Regions from separate parts of the Homo sapiens genome. Here region 2 is linked to region 1. Evidence: fine-mapped expression QTL. A gene starts in region 1. The other region holds a variant in brackets. All regions are shown on one strand. Distances are between the middles of the regions. Region 1 holds the start of MORF4L1 (mortality factor 4 like 1). Region 2 overlaps MORF4L1 (mortality factor 4 like 1).

Evidence for each region. PIP is the estimated chance that this variant, and not a neighbour inherited with it, causes the effect.
Region 2: its variant is the best candidate, but not a certain one, in a credible set for the expression of MORF4L1 in whole blood (TOPMed, PIP 0.71).

The regions. Positions count from the first base shown.
Region 1 is chr15:78,871,697-78,874,470 of GRCh38, reverse strand. MORF4L1 (mortality factor 4 like 1) reads right to left here and starts at 1,581. Exons shown (of 12, transcript NM_006791.4): 1 at 1,414-1,581. The coding sequence starts at 1,453. RefSeq lists silencers at 1-78, 1,080-1,139, 1,550-1,809 and enhancers at 730-969, 363-994.
Region 2 is chr15:78,896,573-78,899,346 of GRCh38, reverse strand. MORF4L1 (mortality factor 4 like 1) reads right to left here. Exons shown (of 12, transcript NM_006791.4): 12 at 1,208-2,364. The coding sequence ends at 2,280. It also overlaps the pseudogene RNU6-415P. Among named protein-coding and RNA genes, the nearest start is that of MORF4L1, 25 kb to the right of the region's middle. The variant C/T (reference allele first, on the strand shown) is at 1,188.

The DNA.
Region 1 (2,774 bases):
TTAGCCCGGGTGGGGGGCAGAGGTGAGCCGAGATAGCGTCACTGCACTACAGCCTGGGTGACAAACATCGTCTCAAAAATACAAACAAAAAAAGTCACTCATTAACAAAATACCCCTAAAACCTCCTTAAATATTCCATAAACTTAAAATACGCAGTACTACGGTTTGAGGTTTACGGCTCTAAAAGGAATTCTAATGCAAGTCTAAAAACCCCTAGAACAAAAATCGTACGCATGTAGACATCGTATTTACGGTAACTAGCATAAATTTCCATAGCAATGAAAAGGAATGTTAAAGTGTTCCTCCTTTCTCAACAGGACTTTACTTCCTTTTTAGCTATTAGACCTCCACCTTATTATACGTTAACTGAAGCGTTGTGAAAATTTAAAGAGCTGCCTTCCACTGGGAGTCAGTCTAACCTTACCCAAAACTCATGTCAATCGAAAACCAATTAATAAAAAGAAATTCAACTTTCAAGTCATTGTTAAACACTGCAACTAATCAAACAATTACTGCATTTAAAAAATGACGTCGAGGCAATGGGACTTACAAATGCAAACGGCGTCAACACTGCATTCAGATCATTTTTATTTACTTTTTACGAGCAACTGCAAAGCGAGAGCTCACTCACATTACCATAGGATCTCGGCACTGCGCCCAAGAATAGCAGAGTGATGCCTCCAGGCAACACAAAGCGGAGGAAAACGCTCATCTCACTTTTTTTTTTCTGTCCCCACCCACCACTCTGTGGTATGCGGAGGGCCCCGGCAACCTTCTGGTCGTCGTGGAAGGGGGCGCTGCATCTGCCCGTAAGCTGTGCCTCCATACGGGACCGAGACGCCGGCGGCCATGATGGCGCCGCCATCTTGCAACGGCCATTTTACAACGCACTTCTCCCGCCCCGTGGCGCCAAACCCACCCCCATCCGCAGCTGAGTTGCCACCGAACGCAACCACCCCGGGGCTCCAGGAAGCACCGAAAAACCCGTCGTAGCTGCCCAAGCGGCCGGGCGCGCCGCAGGACCGCCCGAAACAGCCACCGCCCCTCCCCCCCCGCCGCCACATCACTTCCCCTAACCGCCGCCATGGCGCTCCCGTCGCCTCCCTACAATAGGCTGCTCTCTCCGCGCCCTCTTCCTCAGAACAATAACAAACACTTGACGAGGGTGTGCCACGCGCCAAACGCTCTCTCTCCCACTCTAACGCCTGCGCAGCACTCTCGCTTCACAAAGCGCTTTCTCACAATGACGCACCGGAATTGCCATCCGCAATGCGCTTTCCCCGCACAAAGCACTGACCGCCGCCTTCTCAGGGCGCAGCCCGCGCCGCCCCCGGCCCTCAAGCCTCAATCACCTCGAGCCCGCCTCTATCTCCTGCGCCGTTAGGTGCCTTTTTCCCAAAGGCGCACACTCACCCTCCTGGAATTTAGGCTTCGGGTCCTGCTTCGGCGCCATTTATAAGTGATTCGCCGCCTCCTCCTTCTCCCACCACCCCCGACTACCGCCCCCTACTCTCTACCCCACCCAACTCCGCGTCAGACGCGCCGTCAGGCACTGCCAGCTCTACATCCTGGGCCGGATTTGCCAGCGCCCGCAGACCTCACAGCACCGCGACCCGCGCAGCCGCTGCTCCAGCCAACGACAGCCCGCCGCGCACGCGCCCCTGCGCCCGCGCCGCCCCAGGGCACGCCGGGACTGGTAGTTCGGAGTCGGTGGAGGCGCCCCCCCCCCCCCCCCGGGTGGGGGAGGGGCCGGCTACCCTACCCCACCCCACCCCCGCTTCTCTCTCCATGCCCCCGGCTGCTGCGGGTTGGTAAAGCGGGGATTTGATTTCGTGGGAGGTTAAGGCGGAGCTGGCGATGGGGGAGAGTGGGGGTGGTGAGCCACCAGTGATAATAGAATGGGAAAGGCCCAGTTGCGACGTCCCTTGGGCAAATAAGCCCCCGTTGATGTTGAAGTAGTCGGAGAGAATAGGGCTGGCTCGGAAACCTACATTCAATAGCATTCCGCTAGTTTTTGCATAGAAAGGCTTTAGGATCAGCAAGAGGGTGGGAACTGGGGTCCGCTTCTGGAAGCTTCGTTGTTTAGCAACCCCACTGCGGAGCCTATTTGGTGGGATTGATAGCCATTTGTTGGCTCCTAGGTCTACCTCCTCTTCTCCAGCCCAGCCTTGCGGAAATGAGGATGATGACGTGGGAAACACTAGTCACGCTTTAGCTTTTTGAGATAATGGAGCTCTGCTTTCTGAAAAAGGCTAGTGTGAATATGTCAACGTCTGTATTCCGTACCTGCCCTGTTTGTGCTTCTTGTCACTCTAAACAAACGGATTTCTTCAATATTATACCTTTTTTTTTTTTTCTGAGATGGAGTGTCGCTCCGTTGCCCAGACTGGAGTGCAGTGGCGCGATCTCTGCTTACTGCAGCCTTCGCCTCCCAGGTTCAATCGATTCTCCTGCCTCAGCCTCCGGAGTAGCTGGGATTACAGGCATGTGCCACCACGCCCAGCTAATTTTTGTATTTTTAGTAGATACTGGGTTTCACCATGTTGGCCAGGCTGGTCTGGAACTCCTGACCTCGTGATCCGCCCGGTTTGGCCTTCCAAAGTTCTGGGATTACAGGCGTGAGCCACCGTGCCTGGCCTAAACAAACGGATTTATGTCGTTCCCTGTTCAAAAACAACTTTGTTGGCTAAGCTGCAAAATAGCACCATTTCCGTCAGTTTATTGTGAGAATTACATATACGGGCTTAGCGCGGTACCCAACAATGAATAAGTGC
Region 2 (2,774 bases), 25 kb before region 1:
CATCTCTACTAAAAATACAAACAATTAGCCAGGCATGGTGGCGGGTGCCTGTAGTCCCAGCTACTCGGGAGGCTGAGTCTGGAGAATGGCATGAACCCAGGACGCGGAGCTTGCAGTGAGCCGAGATCACACCACTGCACTCCAGCCTGGATGACAGAGAGAGACTCTGCCTCAAAAAAAAAAAAAAAAATTATTTGTAGAGACAAGGTCTCTTCCCTACGTTACCCACGCTACTTTCAAACTCCTGGGCTCAAGTAATCCTCCCACCTCAGCCCCAAAGTGCTGAGATTACAGATTACAGGTGTGAGCCACCACGCTCGGCAAGAAAATCTTTAAATACCTAACCAGTAACACTAATGTTCAAGGGACCATGAGTACACATTAAAAAAAAAAATCACATCTAGGGCTCATTTTGTTAGCAAAAATATTAAAAATTCAAACAATCAAGATTAGCATGGCCCCTGTGCCAAGAATGACACGTAAATTCTTGAAGTGTTTCATTTTTTAAGTCACATCTAGATAAACAAGAACTTTCAACAGCTGAAAGACCCCAGGCAACAACAATCCCTATTTGTTAGAAATCCAACTAAATCAGTACAGTTGTGACAAAAAGGGTAAAGAAAAAGAGAACAAGTAAGCCGAATGAAGGAGGCGGCAGGAAGACAACTATGGGTAGAAGCAGTTCCCTTCAAACAACCCAAGCAAATCCTGCTTCTTTGGAACTTACTCCTATTTCCCTCCTGCACTCATTATCCCTCTTGTATTGCTGCTGTAACTCTCGCCATCTGAACTTATCTGCTGCTTTGCATTTTAATTGTTTTCTGAGGGTTTTTTTTTTTTTTTTTTTGAGACAGAGTTTCACTCTTGTTGCCCAGGCTGGAGTGCAATGGCACAATCTTGGCTCACTGCAACCTCTGCCTCCTGAGTTCAAGCAATTCTCCTGCCTCAGCCTCGTGAGTCGCTGGGATTACAGGCGTGCGCCACAACGCCCAGCTAATATTTGTATTTTTAGTAGAGATGGGGTTTCTCCATGTTCATCAGGCTGGTGTCGAACTCCTGACCTCAGGTGATCCGCCCGCCTCAGCCTCCCAAAGTGCTGGGATTACAAGCGTGAGCCACTGCACCCAGACGCATTTTAATTCTTAACGTCTGCCATCCTCTACCCAAGTACAGACCACTTTAGTGTC[C/T]CTATCAAAGGGGAGAAACGTTGCCCTTTACAACTTTTGGGTTATTTTAATACTGTGTTGTCTATTGACATTTTTGGCTCATGTTTCTAGAGTAAACCCACAAAAGTAAACAATTATAGACAGAAAAAAGCTGACCATAATTTTACACAGGTGAAAATGCCCTTAATTAATGCTCAGAGTAAGTAATAATTTAGGGAAAATAAAAAAAACAGTCATGTAAACTTCTAACTTTTTAGCTAAGACTCAAGACAGCAAACTGCCAAAGCTGCTATGGATTAGCGCTACGTACCAAAGCTAAAGCGTCTCATTCCATAAAGGCCATACCAGAAAACAAAGCACGCACCTGAAAAACCACTGTCTAAATACAAGAAGGAATACACAAATATACAATGGTTTTTGTAAGGCATCAACACAAGCACATTGTTCTTTGAAATTTAAAGAAAAAATTTATTGAAGATCTGAAAAACAATTCCTAAAAGATTGACTTTTCCAGAAAACTAGCTACACAATGCATTGCGTCTATCATGTTAAAACGTGCATTAGACACAAATACAAAAACCATGAAACAAGCCACCATTCTTCAACAATTTGAGCCAAGATAAAATGCCTAAGTAACAACATGGATGACTTGCAAAGGATGGGCTCTTTACTTTAAGCACCATAAAAAAAAACAAAAGCACAAATGGATGAGTGTGTTCAGTTATATACACTGAATTGAACCTTTGGCACTAGGAATCAGAGCATTTTGTCATATAGCATTAACATGTATTATAAAAGTGCGTAGTGTCAAAGGAATAGAACCACCAGCATTCAAAAGCAGCTTTGTCAACTAGGCAATAAAACACTCTACAGCATATCCCTCTGTTGTCCATCATTGAAAACACTGGCAGCAATTTTGAAATGAAAAAAAAAAAGAAAGAAGAAAAAAGGAGCTATTACCCCCTTTTATTTTTTCTCTGTTTAAAATCAAACAGAAAACAAACATCAATTGTTATACACTAACATCTTCAAAGCACATCGTTTGTACAAGAGATAGACTAAGAACAAAAATGTGTTTACGGAGATCCAAACATAAGTGAGTGAGAGTGCCTCTCACACAGCTTTCCGATGGTACTCAGGAGGAGCCACTTCATAATCGCTGGCACTGAACAAAGTTGCAGAATTCTTTGCCAGGTACCTAAAAATAAAATATTCATTACAAAAATTTTTAAAGGTCATTATCTTGATCCAAATCTCTTCCTATATATTATATACATAAGCCACAGAAAACACTTTCCTAAAATACATTAAACCAGACATTCTCTCACAGTAAAACCACACATAATGACAATTCAGGTAAATAAATAAGGTTATACAATGAACAACACTATACATATACAAAGGAATGAACTCTGGAGTTACTCCCCTATTTCTAAACAGCAAAGAACAGTTATGTCTGCAGAATACCAACTTGGGAGCTTGAACCATCTTTAAGAAACAGTTATTATCCTATTACATGACAGCATTACCCTAAAAGAACATCTAGACATTTTCTAAAAAAAAAATCGTTATCAGCCGGGAGTGGTGGCTCATGCCTGTAATCCCAGC